Linked DNA regions of Homo sapiens. The protein of the gene in region 1 purifies or fractionates together with the protein of each later gene. This does not show direct contact. Each region holds a gene or a part of one and is shown on either strand. Other genes may lie near its edges.

Region 1 (1,895 bases):
TTGCAGACAGAGGAGCCTTTTACAAGCACCCAGCAGGACTCTTCTCCAATGTCACCATTCTCTTTCCACACATACCTCTTCAATGTTTCTGATCCAATTTTTAATATTGTCAAAGGATTTTTCATTTGTGATGTCATAGACCAGCATAATGCCCTATAAGGGGGAAAAATATCTTTATTTAGTACTTTATATATTTAAAGTTATAGTATATAATGTCAATGTACTCCTACCCTCCAGAAACCTTTTGTTTGTCCATTTTTTCCCTTTAAAAAGGGTTCATAATAAATTTGAAAAGTACAGAGAAACAAAAATCAATAAATACTTATTCCACTGGTCTCACCATGTAAATAAAAACCCTTTTAACATTTTCACTGTTAACCTTTAATGAATTAGTGATCGTGGTAAAGGTGATACACCCTTTCTACCTGACCTCACATGATAACAATCAGCCCCAATTGGAGCTGAGTGTTAAGTCAAAACAGCGATAACATTGAGAGTAAGAGTTAATCACTTCCACTGTGCACTTGTTTATTCCAAGTAGAAACTATCTTGCTTTCTACTCTTCTACTAAGATTGAGACCACACTGCTTTAAAATTATTTTTTATGTAGGTTGATCAAAAAATAGGTTGTCACTATTTATCTAAGTACATCACAGACACTTAAAATCCAATGCATTTGTTATACTGGTTTAATGAAAGGCATTCTCATCATATTTTTAAAGACTCCATGTCTGGTATTTCTTTTTTTGAGACACAGTCTCGCTCTGTCACCCAGGCTGGAGTGCAGTGGCATGATCTCCACTCACTGCAAGCTCCACCTCCCGGGTTCACGCCATTCTCCTGCCTCAGCCTCCCGAGTAGCTGGGACTACAGGCGCCCGCCACCACACACAGCTAATTTTTTGTATTTTTAGTACAGACAGGGTTTCACCATATTAGCCAGGATGGTTTCGATCTCCTGACCTCGTGATCCGCCCGACTTGGCCTCCTAAAGTGCTGGGATTACAGGTGTGAGCCACCGCGCCCAGCCCATGTCTGGTATTTCTAAAAGGTTTACCTTCCAAATGTTTAAACTAACACCTGTATGCTACTGCAAAATCTATATCCCCAGACCACACTTCTGTACTAAGTGCTAGAACTACTCACCTGTCCATCTACTACATAAATATTTAGTGAGCACCTACTGTGTGCCTGATACTATACTAGATCCTACTAGCAGTGAACAAGATAGAAAAGGTCTCTTCCTCTTGTAGATGGCTAACAAAGACAACAGACAATAAACCAATATCTATACAACTAATTATAATTTTGACAACTGCTATGAAGATGCATGGGGAGCTCATATGCTAGGGGTGTAATTCAATCTGGTTGAGGGGCTGGAGTGGGCAGGGGAGGCTTCCCTGAGGAAATGACATTAAAGCCAAAGCCTGGGAACTTAGTAGACTTAAACTAGGCAAAGGGCTAGGAGCTGCGGTGAAGAGGGGAAGCCCAGGTACCTGGCAAATAGCAGAAACATTGTAAATCTCTTGCTGATGTTGAACCAGAGACCGCTGGATTGAGTGAAAGAAAGTCAGCTTGGCAAGGCTGCACAGATCTAATGGGCGGAGGGCACAAGCTGAGGCTGAAGGGCTAGGCTGGGGTACTCAAGAGACCACTGTCTGGACATTGGCCAATAGATATCCCCTTGTGATCACGGCAAACTCAACAAAGTAAAACAAGATTGTCTTGTCTCCTCTGAATCTTCTATTTGTCCTTGTATTACCATTTTGGTGAAAGTAATACAACCCAGTCAGCCAGCCCAAGCACACATGTGGGAGTTATCTTCTCTATAGCCAATCAGTCACTAAGTCCTGGAGACTCAATGTCCTAAATATTCCAGAATCTTACCTACCACAC
Region 2 (3,660 bases), on another chromosome or scaffold:
TCAACAAATATTACTGATTGAATGAATTACACATGAAAATGAAGCAAACAATTGTTGTTTTTGCTGGTGACTAAGTTTCCAAGAAAAATTTGAGGTAATGAATTGGTTCATTAAAAGTAGAAATATTTTAAAAATGAGCCTCTTAAGTATTTTTCTGAATGAACCTTTCTTTGCCAGCACAGTTGTTAAGAGCAACCCTGAGCCATTAATGGGCAGGAACAGCCTGAGACCCCTGTGGAGTCCTGAGTCAATGTGACATTGGCCTCTAGTGGACAAAATTGAGAATGCAGCAGCTCCAGGTAAAAGATGTCCTGTGGCACTAGTCACAACTGAAGGAAATGAAAATCTCAACGTTTCCTTTATTTTTCACTTCTACCATGCAAACTGAATTACATTACATTACATTACAAGGAGAGCCCATTGTCAAATTTTTGCCTAAATAATTAAAAAAATAAATTCAATACTTGGCATTCTGAGTATTAGTGTCTAGAAACATTTATTGACATCAGAGCCTCTACAGAGGCAGAGAGTGAGATTTTACACCACGACTGAGTGGGAGTCAATTTTCCTACCTTAATTCCCTTTTTCCTAAATAATCTTTTCCAGCCTCCTGGTATTTTCATTGGGATTGCAGGGTTGCAGGCTATCAGACAGTCTTGAGATAGAAGTGCATTTTATTTTTACATTTTTATTCTTAATTTTATTTTTTAAGAGATGGGGTTTTGCTGTGTTGCACAAGCTGGAATACAGTGACAAAAAAGCACTGGAGATATAACCTGATCTGGGCTAGGTCACCCCTCCTCAGGCATCCCGGTGGTGCTCTGCTCCAAGGAGGTCACCACATTGACACTGAACCCACATGACAGCTCAGAACTCCTGGGCTCAAACAATCCTCCGGCCTCAGCCTCCTGAGTAGCTGGAATGACAGGCATGCACCACTACCACGCCCAGCAAGGTGCATTTTAAACCACCTGCTAGTCAAAGGGTAAATGTTATCTCTGTAACAAGGAGAGAAAAAGCTGAGACCAAAGAAGGGACACGTTTAAATAAAAAGAGGATGCAAATTTGAGGGGTGAATATATGAACTATTTTTGCCTTACAAACAAATCAGATGACGATATGTATAGTCATTATTTACTTTCCTTCTTAGCACACTACCTGATGCCGTGAGATCCTGGAACATGCACCATGTGCCTATCCGGTTCTGGCAAGACGCTTCTAGCTGTTTTGACTTCATTTAACAGCTTCTCATCACTTTGTAATCTCCAGGTTTTTTTTTTTTGTTTATTTGTTTTTTTGAGATGGAGTCACGCTGTTGTTGCCCAGGCTGGAGTGCAGTGGCATGATCTCAGCTCACTGCAACCTCTGCCTCCTGTATTCAAGCAATTCTCCTGCCTCAGCCTCCCAAGTAGCTGGGATTACAGGCATGTGCCACCACGCCCGACTAATTTTTTTGTATTTTTGGTAGAGACGGGGTTGCACCTTATTCACCAGGCTGGTCTCGAACTCCTGACCTTGCGATCCACCCACCTCGACCTCCCAAAGTGCTGGGATTACAGGCATGAACCACCGTGCCCGGCCTGTAATCTCCAGGTTTTAAGGCCATGACTGCCCACTTGCCTAACTCAAGCCCTTATAAATATCCTTAAATATCTCTTATTCTTTATCTGTATGCAGGCTGCCGAGCAAGAAATAAAATCTTTAAAACCAAAATAATTGGCTTAGGATAAAGTAAGCTCACAGAGGGAAAGAGCTGGCATAGAACAAAGCAGAGGCGGCTTCTATGTGCACTCCTGCCAGGCAGAGGGGCAGCAAGGGACAGCGAGAGCTGTGGCACTCTCCCGAGGACATGCTCAGGAGTGAGGCCAACAGCGAAGGATGATGAACTCCCGATCAGACCCATTCAGATGGAAACGAACAGACAAATCCACATGCCTGGGTAAGACTAAGACTTCTTGGATATTGGCCCCTGGCTCTGTTCTCCTCCAGCACTTTGTCTGCAGTGTGAACCACATTCCCAGTTGTGGTAAAACAGCCGTTCTTAGATCACATCTGTATAGGATGGGGACTTTTGAGCACTTTCCTAAACCCTGTTTCCCCCAACACCGGACTTTATACACATCTGTAAAACAGATGGTGATCATGCTCACATCTAAGTGCAATCGTACCAGCTGGCATCAATATGAATATAGGAAATAAAAGCAATAAGGCCTGTATTTAATAAGCCTCTGACCTCATGCACTGTCCCCCTCTTTCATCTTCTTTTACTTTTTTTTTTTTGAGACGCAGTCTCGGTCTGTTGCTCAGGCTGGAGCACAGTGGCGCAATCTTGGCTCACTGCAATCTCTGTCTCCCAGGATCAAACAATTCTCCCACCTCAGCCTCCCGAGTAGCTGGGATTACAGGCAACGGCCATCATGCCCGGCTAATTTTTGTATTTTTGTAGAGACGGGGTTTCACTATGTTGACCAGGCTGGTCTTGAACTCCTGACCTCCTGCCTCGGCCTCCCAAAGTGCTGGGATTTCAAGCGTGAGCCACCGCACTCAGCCTTCTTTTACATTTTTGCCAGCACTTGATGCCAGGAACTCTGTCTGCTGCCAATTTCTATTGGGAATGGAAGCCCCATTATCACAGGGGGCCGTCCAGGTGGAGCCAGGCAGCAAAACCGTGCGCTTTCTGGGAGCCCTCCAGGAAGGACGGACAGACCTGGCGCAGGCGCCAGCCTGGCCCTGCTGCCCCAGACTCCCAGGAATACCTACCATTTCCTTGAATGCACTTTCAAGCGCTCCGATGACCAGGCACTCATGGGGAATCTTCTTCTCGGTAAAGAAGCGTGTGGGGGGCGTGCTGGGGGAGCCCGGGGCCCCCACCCCTCCGCGCAGGGAGGCTGCCCGGGTCAGAGTCCGGCTGTTGGCGGGCGTGTTCTCAGGCTCCTCCCCCAGGCAGGTAGGGGGCAGGACGGCGGAGTTCTTCAGGATGTCCACGATGTCCTGCAGCTGCTCCGTGATGTGGTGCTGCAGCAGGCGTGACGCCACCACCGCGGCCCCGGACCCCGCGTGCCCGTCAAACAGCGACCAATAGTGGCAGGAAACACCCTCGGATTCCTGTGGGAGAGGACGACAGGGAGGAGTGAGAACGGCTGTGGACTTTGCCTCAGGGTCATACAGATTGTGGGACATCTATGGGACTGAGGGTCCACTTGGTTGTCTGTCGTCTGCAAACAATGCGGTCAAAACATAGCAAACAAAACAAAATAAAACAAACAAAAACAAAAACAAAAAAAACACTCAGGGAAGGGTCCCCAAATGAGCCATTGTTGTTACTAGCACCAGAAGGATGAAGCGGTCTCTGCCTCCCCACCTAGCAAGGGAGCCCAAATGATCATACACTAAGCTACTACTTGGAGGGTGAGATCTACTCTAATTTGAAGTGTAGGTGTTTGCATAAAACTCTCCTACAAACAGACAAGTCTGTACGAGTCCAGCTTGAACACCTAACTCCTTAACTCCCGTCTTTTTTTTTTTTTTGACAGAGTCTCACTCTGTGGCCCAGGCTGGAGTTCAGTGGCGCGATCTAGGCTCACTGCAACCTCCACCGCCCAGGTTCAAGCGATTCTCATGCCTCAGTCTTCTCATGCCTCAGCCTCTGGAGTAGCTGGG
Region 3 (3,660 bases), on another chromosome or scaffold:
TCTTCCATTCTGGAAAGAGGCCAGATTTATCCAGAGAGTCTCTCCTGGAGGTAGATTCAGAAATTATAACTAAGTCACCTCCTACCCTTCCCCTTCTACCCAGGGATCAAAGCTCTATGGAAGGAGAGCCAATGGCTTGGGTCATCGTAATAACCAAATTCAGAAGGTACACTTCGCATGTGATTTACCTGGAAGGAATGCAGAAGATCAGATAGGCAACTTTGCACAAACACAAACACTCACACCCTCATTCTTAAGGGACAGCAGCATCAGTTGCTACTGGGCTAAGAAGAATACTCCAAGATACTGGGGGAATTGACTAGAGATGTCAATGTGTTCCAGGAAGCTGTGCTCAGAGCCAAATCAGTAGACGTGCTACTGAAAAGACTTCTGTTGAGGACAGAGAAAATACTTCGTTCAACTTCCTGAGGACAGAAGTCAGGAACACTGATGCTGCAGAACAAAATCACAACTTGGGTTGAGAGGAGATGAGGGAAATGGGGGGAACCCCACCTGGAGGTGCTATCCGAGTCAGCTGTGAAGCTATCCAGACTCTCACTCTCAGCTTCCAATGCACTCTTTCCACTTTTCAGCTTTGGCACTTCAAATAGCACACTAGAATAAAAACCAAGAGCCAATATTGAAAGGAAGCAGGTTCTCCTGCCTCTAGTCAGGCCTCTTTCCAATCCATTCACAATCGTAGCCTGAGTGATCTTTCTAAAATAAATATGAGTATACTTTAAACATATAATAAATTAATTAATTAAGAAATAAGGTCTCGCAATGTTGCCCAGGCTGGAGTACTGTGGCTATTCACAGGTGCCATCATAGTGCACAACAGTCTCTAACTCCTAGGCTCAAGCAACCCTGCTGCCTCAGCCTTCTGAGTAACTGTACCATGGTGTACCAGCTGAGTACAGGCATGTACCATGGTGCCCAGCTGAGTATACTTTTTTTTTTTGAGACGGAGTCTCACTCTGTCTCCCAGGTTGGAGTGCAGTGGCGCGATCTTGGCTCACTGCAAGCTCCGCCTCCTGGGTTCACGCCATTCTCCTGCCTCAGCCTCCCGAGTAGCTGGGACTACAGGTGCGTGCCACCATGCCCGGCTAATTTCTTTGTATTTTTAGTAGAGATGGGGTTTCAATGTGTTAGCCAGGATGGTCTCGATCTCCTGACCTCGTGATCCGCCTGCCTCGGCCTCCCAAAGTGCTGGGATTACAGGCGTAAGCCACCACACCCGGCCCTCAGTATACTTTTAAAACTCTTCAGTGGTTCCCCATTGCTGTTGGGATTTAGCTGAAACTCCTTAGCATGGCAAGAAATCCTCATGATTTGGCCCCTGCTCACCCTCTCCAGTCTCATTTTTCACCCCCTACTCCTCCTTCAAGCTTTATATTTTAGAAAGACAAAGTTATTTTGTTTCTCTGAATATCCTGAAGCTCTCCATCTTCCCTCTTTTATCTGCCTAAGATATTCTTTTCACAATGGCCACTTTTCTTCACCTGCCTCAATCTACTCCTGCTTCAGGTCTCTCCTTATATGTCAATTCCTCCAGATCTCTCTGGCCATGCCCCCACCCTAAGTCTCGATTAGTAACCTTCCTCTGTGCTCCCATAGCATCCTGATTTCCTAGTAACAGTCACCACATATGTAACTATTTATGTATTTTAAACAAATTATTTATTTGGTTCAATAATTTAAACAAATTATTTAATGTCTTTCTCCTCCATTCGACAAAGTTCCATAAGATCAGTGACCACGTATCTTATTTACTGATGTGTTCTCAGTGCCTTGAAGAGAGACTAGCATAGAGTATGCACTCAAGTATTTTTATTGACTGAATTATTGAATAAATGCCCTCAGTGGGACTGAGATATATCCATAAATAAGCAGTATGTCTAGAAGACAGTATTCAGGTGACCAGAATTCTTTTTTTTAGCTTAATCGCCTTAATGAAGGATGACTCTGGGCATTCAAAATACCAGTTCTCATCTTTCAAGGGAAGGATACGGTTCCTCGGCCCCTTACCTCAAAGAATTAGTGAGAGCAGCAGGAAAAGGGGGAAAAAACATCGATTCTTCCTCAAATATCTCAAATAACTTCCCTTGGCTCCCCGGACACCACACTCTCCTGGTTTCCTCCTCCAACCTCACTGGCTGCTGCTTCTCAGTCTCCTTTGCTAGTCCTTCCTCCTCCCGTAGACCTCTAATATTTAGATTATGTCCAAACTTCTTCCTTGGGCTGCTCCTCCTCTCTATCTAGAATTATCCCTAAATGATCTCATCTAGTCTCATGGCTTTAAATATCCTCAATAAACTAATAACTCAAATATATTTATTTTTATTTTTTATGTTTTTTGAGATGGAGTCTCTGTCACCCAGGCTGGAGTGCAGTGGCACAATCTCGGCTCACTACAACCTCCACCTCCTGGGTTCAAGCGATCTCCTGCCTCAGCCTCTTGAGTAGCTGGGATTACAGGTTTGTGCCACCATGGCTGGCTAATTTTTTTATTTTTAGTAGAGACAGGTTTTCACCATGTTGGCCAGGCTGGTCTTGAGCTCCTGACCTCAGGTGATCCATCCGCCTCAGCCTCCCAAAGTGTTGGGATTACAGGCGTGAGCCATCATGCCCGGCCTCAAATTTATCTCTTACTCAAACTCCAGACTTGTTTTTCCAATGGCCTCCTCAATGTCTCCACGTGGATGTCTCAAACACAGCAAGCCCAAAACCAAAGCCCTAATCTTCCCCCAAAACTGCTCTTCGCTCTGTCTCATCAAATGGCAATTCCCTTTCATTTCTCAAGTCAAAAACGCTAAGAATCATCGGTTACTCCTCTTTTTCTCACAATACAAATCAAATCTGTCAGCAAATCCTCTTCAATGTATACCTAGACTCTGATACGTTCTCACTGCCTCCACTGCCATTACTCTGGTCCAAACCACCATCATGTAGCTCTTGGATGGTTGCAGTAGCCTCCTAACTAATCCTGCTTCTTCCCTTGGCTTTGACTTTCCCTCAACAGCCAAAATGAGCTTTTAAAATGTAAATCAGGGATAGAACTATCATATGACCCAGCAATTCCATTCCTGGGTACCTACCCAACAGAACTAAACAATATATGTCCACACAAAAATGTTACATGAATGTTCATAGCAGCATTATTCCTAATAGCCAAAAGATGAAAACATCCTAAATGTCCATCAATGCATGATTAGACAAATGAAATGTGGTATATTCATATAATGGATTATTCATCAATAAAAGACAATGAAATTCTGATACATGCTGCAACATGGATGAACTTTGAAATCATTATGCTAATTGAAATAAGCCAAACACAAAAGGCCACATATTGCATGACTGCATTTATATGAAATGTCTAGATTAGGCAAATCCATCAAGACAGAAAGCATATTAGGGGCTGGGGTAAATGGAGGTGGCTACTTAATGGCTATCGGGTTTCTATTTGGGATGGTGAAAATGTTCTGAAATTAGATAGTGGTGATCTAATTTCACAACATTCTGAAAGTACTAACAATCACAGAACTTTATACTTTAAAATTGATTAAAATGATTTTATGTTATGTCAACTTTACCTCCATTTTTAAAAAGAAGACAAAATAAGGCTGTGCCCCTCAGAGCCATCCTTCTTACTTGGAG

What was found.
Region 2: the proteins of RAB8B (region 1) and PPM1H purify together in Homo sapiens (co-immunoprecipitation; one study listed by IntAct). This does not show direct contact.
Region 3: the proteins of RAB8B (region 1) and SYTL4 purify together in Homo sapiens (affinity purification with mass spectrometry; 2 studies listed by BioGRID and IntAct, with this or other methods). This does not show direct contact.

Annotation. Positions count from the first base shown.
Region 1 is NC_000015.10:63,253,765-63,255,659, reverse strand, and holds part of RAB8B (ras-related protein Rab-8B), read right to left. Parts: exon of another isoform or gene 154-1,895; coding exon 76-153; intron 1-75. UniProt on the Homo sapiens protein: The small GTPases Rab are key regulators of intracellular membrane trafficking, from the formation of transport vesicles to their fusion with membranes.
Region 2 is NC_000012.12:62,799,056-62,802,715, forward strand, and holds part of PPM1H (protein phosphatase 1H), read right to left. Parts: intron 3,106-3,660; coding exon 2,761-3,105; intron 1-2,760. UniProt on the Homo sapiens protein: Dephosphorylates CDKN1B at 'Thr-187', thus removing a signal for proteasomal degradation.
Region 3 is NC_000023.11:100,690,595-100,694,254, forward strand, and holds part of SYTL4 (synaptotagmin-like protein 4), read right to left. Parts: intron 616-3,660; coding exon 514-615; intron 45-513; coding exon 1-44. UniProt on the Homo sapiens protein: Modulates exocytosis of dense-core granules and secretion of hormones in the pancreas and the pituitary. Interacts with vesicles containing negatively charged phospholipids in a Ca(2+)-independent manner.